Linked DNA regions of Homo sapiens: region 2 is reported to be linked to region 1. Evidence: microRNA targets listed by miRTarBase, many of them from high-throughput screens and not tested one by one. Region 1 holds a microRNA gene; the other region holds the end of a gene's coding sequence.
The links. The annotated mature microRNA hsa-miR-4695-5p reads CAGGAGGCAGUGGGCGAGCAGG and lies in region 1 at 1,419-1,440, opposite strand. An mRNA with a match to its seed (bases 2 to 7 or 8) in the 3' UTR can be bound and repressed. Matches are read on the target gene's strand: a 7mer-m8 pairs with bases 2 to 8, a 7mer-A1 pairs with bases 2 to 7 and ends in A, and an 8mer does both.

Region 1 (5,071 bases):
ACAGCATAGCTGGCCAGCATGGCAGTGTCACTGGGCTTCCATAGGACCACGTTGCCCTGCCCGGGAGGTGTTTCAGTGATGCATGAGGATGGCGCCACCAGCCCCCAACCCCCACCCCACCCTACCCTACAGCATGGTTGTCCCTCACCTGGAACCACCAGACTCTGTGCCAACCAGGACATCCCCTACCCGACCCCACTCCTCCAAGGCGTCTGGCCCTATCTCCAAAAGTCCCTGCCAAGGAGGCCACGGCACAGCCCAATCTGCCCCACGCTCTGGCCAAGGCTCCCTTTCCCCAGAAGCCTGCACCAACCGGTCCTGCCATCACCTAGGCAGGTCTGTTCTTACTGCTAGAGTCACTGAGTGCTCACCGGGCGCGGCGGGGCAAGTACACACGGGCTCTCTCAGCACATGTCCTGGGTCAGGCATGTGCAGCAGCCAGGCACGTGGGCGCCTGGCCATGCACCGTGTTTGTCTGTGCACAGATGCATGAGGACGTCCCCATCCATGTCCCTAGTACACACTCCGGCATCAGCATCCAGTGCCCCTGTCTGGGGCTCGGGGTTCCCGACAACTATGTGGACCTCTCCCACCCAGGCTGTCTGGGAGCTGGGCTGCACCTCCCCCACAGGCCTGGGACTTCATCCAGTAATAGCCAACCTCACTCCGATAATGGCAGAGGAGTGACTTGAATACCATCAACCCCGAGAGAGACTACATCCAAATCTTTCTCTGCTCCATCATTTATTTACTAGTCACTCAGTCTTGCCAAGTAAGTCACGGCTGTGTGTCTCAGTTTTGTCATCTGGCAAAGAGGCAGAGTCACAACTCCCTCTCGAAGCTGCTGAGAGGATGAAATGAGATCATCTCCATGCCGTGCTTGACAGCAGCAGGCACGTGGTGAGCACTGAAGGTCAGCGGTAATGATCATCAACAGAGCCACCAACACTCAGCCAGCTCCGGGCCAGCCCTGCCTGCTGCTGGATGTGTCTCATTTGAGCCTCACAACCCAGTCATGGAGGCTTTCCTATTATTTCCACTTTGCAGATGAGGAAACTGTGCCTCAGAGAAGTTCAGGGATTGCCAGGGTCTCCCAGGCAGAGAGGCACGACGCTGGGATTCAAACTGGGTCTCTGGTCCCAAAGCCTACCCACAGCCCCAAGCTGCCTCCACCTTCTGTGCCTCTCCCCATGACTAGGCTGAGACCCAAGGGGCTCAGGGTGGCCTCTGTCTGTCTGTTGGGACCAGGAGGACAACCAGCTGCCGCTGTCCCACCTGTGCCCACATCTCACCATCAGGGCCGGTGCCCCCGCCAGGTTGCCGCCGATTGCAGTGAAGTTAAAGGGCGAGATGGCCGCCACGAAGCCCTGGGGAAGGAGGCAGCGGTGAGATCAGGCCCATGGCATTGGGCTGCCCCGCCTGCTCGCCCACTGCCTCCTGCAGGTACCTCCAGACCCCGGTACACCGTGCTGTTGGTGCTCGGGGGCACGCTGATGGGCTGCTGCCCCTCCAGCTCCACCGCATACTTGGCATTGAACCGGAAGAAGTCGATGAGTTCCGCTGCAGCGTCAATCTCCGCTTGGATCACGGTCTTACCCTGCAAGGCAGAGGGCCGGGGGTCAGGAGCAGCCAACAGCCTCCTGTCCATCCTCTTCTCACATCTGACGCTGTGCCCAAAGCGAGCACTGAGCCGGGCCCCAGGAGGGACCAGGAAACATTTGGAGGGCTCACCAGGTCCCATCCCAGGGGCTGAGGGGGAAAGGATTCTCAAGCCCCTGAGCTAGCACCTCCTGTAGCCGGCCCTCTGGGCTGGACGGGGATCAGAAGAATTTTAGTGATCCTCTGTAGCAGGCCAGGTACTTGCCATGCACTGTCTTCATTTCATAGCAACTCTGAATGGTGGTGCATGGCAAAGGATCTATGGTCAAGCCTCAGACTAAATTCAGGATCAGAGCCTTCCAGACAGAAGGGCAGATTAGCATGAGCTGGAGATTGGTCACTGGAAAACCAGGAGAGAGACTCGGTGTGTGGGAGGTGGATGGCTCCTTCCCCAGGAATGATGTTCGGCCTTGCTGGTTAGTTTGGGCCAAAAACCAAGAGGCGAGTGACTGTGATTCCCTTAAACCGTCAATTCTTAATAACAGCAAATGTGAGCTGCAGGGAAAAGAACTGTGGACAGCCAAGAACGGGGCTTTTCCAGATTGACGTGGCCTCCTCTTGGCACCCAAGGTCACTGGCAGGTGCACGACCTATTAGAGACACACAGCCCATGAAGCTGAGCTAAGATGTGTACCTTGCTTCCTAGAAGTTCCTGAGTCTTAGGCCAAATACAGAGAAAGCCTAAACTGATCCTAGACTGTCTTCCCAGCAACGTGCGGCTCACCAGGAACACGCAGAGCTGACGCCCACCCCAGAGGGCTGCTGAGCCAATCTAAGAAGGCATTTAGCAGGCTGAGGGGCTGTCATACCAGCTCTGTGCAGCAGAGGGGGCGCTCACCATGGGGACCGAGGAGCAGGCAGTGGCAAATGCCTGATCCAGAAAGCAGCCTGGGTTCTGGCTCCTGCAATTTACCCTTCAGGAACCCAGGTTAGTTGGCAGCGTAGGGCTCAGGTCCTGGAGGTGGTGAAATAACCCTTTCTCCCTCGACTCCTGTCCCCCGCACACTCTGCCTGCTAGAGCCACTCCTCACTCAACTTGCATTTAGCAGGGTGAGGAGCTGTCATGCCAGCTCTGTGCAGAGAAAACCATTGATCAGGGGCTTGCTATGCCTCCTGAAAGGTATCATGCAAAGCCCAGAAAAAGACCGAGAATGTCAAGACATGTTTACTATGTCCAAAAAGCTTGTAAAGGGGCAGTACCTAGGAACTCAATACACTCCAGTGCAATCTGAGCTGTAACTGATGCAGGAACAACATGCTCTGGGGAAACAGAGGCAGGAATAGTCCTTTCGGCTGGAGAAGGCTCAGGAAGTCTCACGGAGGGGGTGACATCTGGGCTGGACCAGGAGGTAAGAGTTCACTGAGCACGGAAGAGACAGCAGGCATTCCAGGCAGGAGGACACGTGGGCAGAGGCAGAGAGGATGCCTGCCATGGCCGGGGAGTCCTGCTAAGTGCCAAATGGCTACACTATGGGCAGGACAGCTTGGCAGGGAAATGCAGAGCAGTGGGCGAGCTGGACAGAGGTGGGCAGAAGGGCCCTGGGTATGGGGCTCAGGTCTTGGGACTTGCCTCTCAGTGGTGGAGAGGTCTGGGTGGGTCATAAGCCAGGAGTAACATCCTGGAGGTGTTGGAAAGACCACTCTGAGGGCGGCGAGGGGCTGACCAAGCTAGGAGGCAGGGAGACAGTGCAGGCCACCACCAGTCCAGGCAAAGCATGACAAAGGCCTAGGAGCGAGGACAGAGGGATGGAGGAGAGGGGACATTTCCGAGGCAGGACACATGGGCTCTGCACAATCTGTCTCGCCTAATAATCTGTGATCATCCATCCCAGCTCCTAGGCCTTGTCCCTTGAGGACATCTCTGGGTCCCCAAAAGGGCTTAGGACCCAGAAGCGCTTCAGCTGATGTCTGCTGCCATGGGTAGGGCACACCTGACTCCCACCCCACCCCGCCCCACCCACCCGGGCCCACCAGCACCTCACCTGTCCCACCATGGTCTTGGCGAGGATCTCAGCCCTGCGCGGCCCACTCAGCATGTCTGCCGCCTTCAGGAAGATCTGGGCCCGGTCTGCAATAGGCTTCAGGTCCCACTCTTTCCGGGCAGCCAGGGCAGCCTCAATGGCTTTGTTGAGCAGGCTCTAAAGGGAGAGGGAGAGGTTGGGGACTGCCACCTGCAGCGGGAAAGGCCCTGGGGAGTGAGCGAGGGAGGAGAGACCTGGGAGGCCACTCTCTTCCATCCGGGGACAATGCCTGTCTCCCTGGGCCCTCAGCCCCCTGCCACCATAGCTGCCAACAACAGCGTCCCATCAGAGCCTGTAGTGGCTGCCAGTCTGAAGCCTGAAGGGCCCGGCCAGGTTGGTCAGCTCTCCGAGGCCTTGGCACTGAGTCCCGCAGCTGTTACACTGGCTCCACTTTCTCTCATGGTCTAATCAAAACCTTACCTTATTCTTGGGACCTGGTGCCCCTTAACCCACCATCCAGAAACTTGAGGTCAACTGGAGCCTGAGACACGGCTCTGCTGCTGGCCTCCCAGACCCCAACTGCCCTCATCGCCACACAATGCCAGTTCCTGGACCCCCAGCCACCCCAGCCCCTCCTGCTGGCCCTTTCCAGTGCCAATTCTTGGCCTAGCTTTCCATCAATGGTGTCTCCAATTGCCCTGACTCAGCCTTCCAGAATCCACCTCCTCCCCAGTCCAAGGTCTGCCCCACCACAATGGGCATGTCTGGGAATGTCTCAGCCCTGGCTGAGGCAGCTTGTGTTTGGCTCAAGTTAACCTTTGTATGCCTGGCCCAGTCAAAGACATCACCCAGGGACTCCCTCAGTGTCAGCCACCCCCTGCCCACCTACCCACCATGGCCAAAGAAGGACACAGCAACTGATGCCCCCTGCCCCCGCCATATCAGCAGCTGGCAGGGCAGAGCAGGGGCAGCAACCCTAACCCCGGGTCACCAGGCACACAGGCTCACTCACCTTGTCTGCATAACAGAACTTGGCCACCTTATGTCCATGGTTAAAAGGCTGAAAGGAGAGAAGAGTGAGGTCCTTGCCCGGGAGGGAGGTGCCAGGATAAGGATGAAGAGGACTGGACTCAGAGCCGGTTTTCCAGGAAAGTCCTGGACACGCCTGCTGTCCCCCCTCCCCCGCTCCCATGAAACCCTCCCCAGTGCCCGGCCCACAGGTTGCTCCCTGTTAAGGGTGCTGGTGTACCCGCTATACCATGAGTAAGACATGGCTCCTTCTCCAGAAGGCTCAGAGTCCAGGAGAAAGGCATAGACCCCAGGGTCTTTCCAGGAAAGCACGGACCTTTGTGGTCAGAGAGACATGGGTTCGAATCCTGGCTCTGCCACCTACTAGCTGTGGGGCCCCAGGTAAGCTCACTTCCTTCCCTAAGTCTCTTCATCTAGGAAAT
Region 2 (5,065 bases), not on the chromosome of region 1:
GTCCTGGGCGCTCTTAGCCCGGCTACTCGGCGTGGGGAATCGAGAGTCTTTTGCCGGGGACCTTATGGGTAGGGTAGAGTTGAAGTGATTGGGAAGGGATGGAGAACCAACATTCACACCGCAATTAGGGTGTCTCTGTCTGGCTTTCTCATACCCTTAGAGACTTTGGGTCTTTCAAACCAACTCTTAGGTAGGGGGCAGAGACCAAAACAATTTTTCCTAGGGACTTCTGGGAGACCAAAGACAGGAGATGGTTTGCCATAGCCAAGACTTGCCCTGGTCCTGGAGGCTGAATTAAATCTGAGAAGGGAACATTGGTAGACTGCAGGCCGGACAGGCCTGGGTGGGTTACGGAGTTACGGGGGCGAGAGCCAGGGTGGGCTTCCTCTCTCCCAACGCGAGCCTACACTGTCCTTTCCTCCCAGGCCGCGACGGTATGACCATCTTTGGGCAGCGGCAGACCCCTAAGAAGCGGCGAAAGTCGCGCACGGCCTTCACCAACCACCAGATCTATGAATTGGAAAAGCGCTTTCTATACCAGAAGTACCTGTCCCCCGCCGATCGCGACCAAATCGCGCAGCAGCTGGGCCTCACCAACGCGCAAGTCATCACCTGGTTCCAGAATCGGCGCGCTAAGCTCAAGCGGGACCTGGAGGAGATGAAGGCCGACGTAGAGTCCGCCAAGAAACTGGGCCCCAGCGGGCAGATGGACATCGTGGCGCTGGCCGAACTCGAGCAGAACTCGGAGGCCACAGCCGGCGGTGGCGGCGGCTGCGGCAGGGCCAAGTCGAGGCCCGGCTCTCCGGTCCTCCCCCCAGGCGCCCCGAAGGCCCCGGGCGCTGGCGCCCTGCAGCTCTCGCCTGCCTCTCCGCTCACGGACCAGCCGGCCAGCAGCCAGGACTGCTCGGAGGACGAGGAAGACGAAGAGATCGACGTGGACGATTGAGCGGCGCCCCGGGTCTTCCGCCGCCCTGGGCTCCTAGCGCTCGAAAGCCCAACGCCTCCCGGACCGGACCGCCGAGGGGAGCTGGGACCTCCTCTGCCAACTCCCGCCTCCTCCCCTGTCCCCGGCCCCGGACTCGGCTCCTGGCAGCCGCCTCTTCCCTCTCGAAGCAATAAACCCAGGCTGGCCGGCCGGGCCGGCCGCCACCAGCGGCCTCCGCCGCCCCGGAAGCCCTCGCCGTGCAATTCTGTATGGCTTCTATATAAATATTTAAACCTATATAGCGGGTTCTTCCCACCGCAGCCTGATTTTTCCTTTCTTTTATTATTATTTTTTAAATCTCGGAGATTTCGATGTTTTCAAAGCTCTCGGGCTGCCGGGTTTGCTGAGGGCGAGACAGAAACCAGGGCGGGGAACACTAACCCTGCGGTCTAGGGGAGTGGCAGCTCCGGCTGTTTTGATTTTTCTCTGCATGTGGCGAATGCACCGGCCCGCTCCTTCCTCGCCTCCCTCGGCCTTATTGCAGTTGACTTCTATTTCCTCGGGCCTTTTTTCCTCATGTGGGAGGGGAAGAGGTGGGCAGTCAGGTCCTGACTTGCAAGTTTCAAAATCGATCTTTCCTCCCCACCCTCTGAGAGAAAAGTCTGTTTTCGATGCCATTTCTGCCTCCTAATGCCCACTAATGCTGTTTTTAAGATTCCTCCCTCCCTCCCGCATTTCCTCGGACTGACTGTTGGAGTCCGGCTCTTAGGGACAATGCAGGGGGAAATCCAACCAACCAACTATCGAAAACAGAACCCAAAGCCCTATAATTATTTTGTACTCTTTTTAGAATTTTTTTGCATGTGACAGAGACAGAGAGGAGGCCGACCCAAGCCCTCACCTCACCTCCTCCACAGCTCTGGGTCTCTCTTGCCACTTCGAACACCCCACTCCTACCCGACTTGGCCAGAGGAGGGTGGCTGGATGTGAGTGGGCTGCGAGTGCCCCTTCCCTGCTCCTCCCTTCCCCTCTCCTCCCTAGACTGTACCCAAGGCCTCTTTCTCCAATAAATAAAGTCTTTGCCATTTTACTAGAACCGGCGGCGACCGTGTCTGAGTGGTGGGCCCGTTTCCGAGAAGCAGCGGCAGGCTGGGCTTCTTGCCGCTCTTCGTGCCGGTCGCCCTAGCCTTGGAGATTTGGGGGGGATTTTCAGGACAGGCTTAAGAGTGAAGGGCGAGGGGGAAGCAGCAGGAGGAGGCGCCTCTTGCCCATAAACCTGAGGCAGCTGCTAAATCGGGAGAGAAGCGGGCTTCGCCAGGTCGGGGTAAAAAACGAGCCGTGAAATGCTGGGAGAAAATGCCTGTGTATGTGGGGGCACACCACAGTACAACATTAATTTGTGTTGAACAAAGGGTGGGAGGGGGTCTTGCCCTGCATTTCCTGCATCCCACCCCAGACCCAAGGGCATTCTCCCTGCACTCCCCGAAAACAGGGCTGAGCCCCGGGAGCGCTGCAGGTATCACTCAGTCAGACGCGGGGTGGAGCCTTGGGTTCCCAAGTTTCGATTCTAGCCCCGAGGGCCTCATCCTTGGGGAGTCGGGGGCCAAAGGCTAAAGGCATCAAGGCCAGGCTGAATTTCAATGTGGGCACCTGGAACTGTAAGCCCAAGCGTCTGGGAGCTGGTGTGAATTTCTGGCAACATTAACCAATTCTGCCTCCACACCCCGGCACACCGCTGGGGGCAGAGGTATGGATCTTGCAAGGACTCTCTCGGGTCTGCGGCGCCCCAAGGCCGGCTGGGGCGGGGGCTGAGGCCGCTTTCACTTTCCTGGACAGAGCGGGTTTCTCTCCGGGCTTTTGTTGTCGCTGGGCTGGCGAGTAGCCGCTGTCACCGGAGTGGGGTCCCGCCTCCGGGCCGCTGGGCTCTCTTTCTCCGCAAAATTGATGTGAGAAATGCGCATCTGGTCTCGGGCGGCGATGGGGCCCCCGGGCCCGAGCCAGGAACGTGCGTGTCCAGGAGGAAACGAAGAGACAGAGAGAAACAGGAAAAAAAAATAGGAGCACAGAAAGACACTCCAAAAGCAGAGAGAGAAAGCGGAGAGCCACAGAGACAGGACGGAGAAAAAGAGGAAAAAGAGAGAGAAACAGAGAAACGGAGAAAGGGAGACAGAGACAGAGGGAGAAAAAAAGAATGGGAAGAGAGGAGAAGAGAGAGAAGGAGCAGAGAAGGAAGGAGACGGCAGGGCAGCGGGGCAGGCGTGCGGCTGGTTCCTCCCGGGCGACAAAAATTGCCCTCTCTTAGGATGGATGGGTCTGTAATTCGGAGCGCGGACCATGAAGGCCGGGACGAATGGGCCTGGGCGGCCGCTGACAGGCGACAATAGCCGGGCCCAGCCCCCCGCGGCTCCCGGTGCGGGCACGGCCGCGGCCCTCCGCAGCCCAGAGCGCGCCGGCGCTGGCGACCATATGGTTTTTGAATTTTCTTCACAATTTGTAGACAATTTGATGGATTAGGTCCCCGCGCGCGCCTCCTCGGCACAAAGGCGGCGCAGGGACCACGGCGGGTCGGTCACCCGGGCATCTGCGCCCGCCGTGCGCACCCCCCCACTCGGCCCCCGCCCCGCGCCCGAAGCCCCAGGCCGCCCGCCCAACACGCTCATGAATCCCAATGAAGCGGCCCTGGCACCTCCGGCCGCTCTCTGCTTCGCGGCCCTGGGCCTGGCCCCGCTGGGTCCCTTTGGGCTGGGGGCGGCGGCCCCAGGGCTGAGCCCACCCGAGCTGCGGCGCCCGCGGGGCGCGCAGCTAAGCAGGCGCGTCGGGGCTGAGGAGAAACGGGGCCATTTATCCGCCCGTCTAGTTAAAGCGGGTTATTTGTTTGCTTCTCCGGCCTGCCCCCTCCCCTCCCTTCCCCCTCTCTCCTCCCCCGCCCTTCCCCTTCTGCCTTTTATTCTTTTGTCTCTAAATGGATTTAATGAGCCTGAAAAACATGACAATTGAATATAACCAAGAAATAAAAAATAACGAGGGAGGAAGGAAGGAGGAAAAGAAAGAATGAAAGAAGGAAGGGGAAGGATTAATAAAATAAGGAGAAAACGCAATTCAATTCAGCAAATGTTTATTGCGCGTCTTTTCTGCGCCAGGCCGCGCAGGGGGGCTGGGAAAATGGAAACGAATCAGATTCGGTTCCTGCCCTCAAGGAGCTCCTAGTCTAGTGGGCAAGACTCGCAGCACCCCCAGCGCTAGTAGAAGCGGACCGAGGGACAGGGCCGTGCCAGTTGCAAAACACTGAGAGGCAGCTACCAGGGTGTTGGCGGCTTCACAGAGGAGGTGGCTTGGGACCCGGGCCTTGAAAGGCGAAAAGTAGTTCGTTGTTTCCATAGGCCAGAGAAGAGAGCCAGTGGAAGGAAGGACCAGAGCTGCGGCGGGGGGAAGGGGTAACGAAGTGTACGTGAGAGCCTCGGCTGAACCCGAGCTAAGGAGGCCACGCGAGAGCGCCCTGCGCGCTCGGTCCCGCACAATGTGGGAAGTGGATTCGAGCCTCTCCGCAGTGTCCTCTGCTCTGAGGAATTCGCTGCCTCCATCAGGTTCCGGGTGGGCTTCCGGAGCCCAGCCGACAGCTCTGTTGAGGCCGCGGACTAGCACTGGACTCTGCCTGGACTAGCACCCGACTCTGCCTGGACTAGCACCCGGGCTTGGGGCTTATCTCTAGGTCCCATTGCGCAGGGAGGCGGCGAGGAAGTCAGCAGCTCTGGGCAAAAGCTGAGGGGCTTGGCTGTAGGCGGAGGCGAGGATCTGGGATCCAGGGAGGCCTGGGCTCTAAGCCCACTCTCTCTTTAGCTCCCCCAGTTCTGAAGAAGTCTGCTACCTGCGCGCGGCCCGGGGACCTCGGATGGTCTTGGCTGTGCCTCAGGCGCTGCCGCTGGGACCGGCGATGTGAGAGAGCCTCAAATCCCAAGTTCGGGCCCGAGGCCTCTTAGCTCACGCCTGCCGGGCCTGTCTCGGGATACTGCAAACAGCAGTGGTGTGTTCGCCCAAGTGTAGGCTCCAAGGGAGCGGGGCTTGTGTATTGCGTGTCTGTTTCTTCTCCTGGTCTGAGTGTACGAGGGAGCTTGGCCTGGGTTGTGTGAGGGGCTGTGGGCC

Region 2: the mRNA of LBX1 is a reported target of hsa-miR-4695-5p. Seed matches in the 3' UTR shown: 7mer-m8 at 1,052-1,058.

The regions. Positions count from the first base shown.
Region 1 is chr1:18,881,832-18,886,902 of GRCh38, forward strand. It overlaps MIR4695 (microRNA 4695), which reads right to left and starts at 1,444; the gene lies at 1,371-1,444. ALDH4A1 (aldehyde dehydrogenase 4 family member A1) reads right to left here. Exons shown (of 15, transcript NM_003748.4): 4 at 4,633-4,680; 5 at 3,642-3,797; 6 at 1,448-1,597; 7 at 1,293-1,367; 8 at 1-56. RefSeq lists a silencer at 2,298-2,529.
Region 2 is chr10:101,223,151-101,228,215 of GRCh38, reverse strand. It overlaps LBX1 (ladybird homeobox 1), which reads left to right. Exons shown (of 2, transcript NM_006562.5): 2 at 426-1,222. The coding sequence ends at 946. It overlaps LOC124902491 (a long non-coding RNA gene), which reads right to left. Exons shown (of 2, transcript XR_007062267.1): 2 at 4,024-5,065. Among named protein-coding and RNA genes, the nearest start is that of LBX1, 3.8 kb to the left of the region's middle. RefSeq lists enhancers at 1,601-2,102, 4,877-5,065.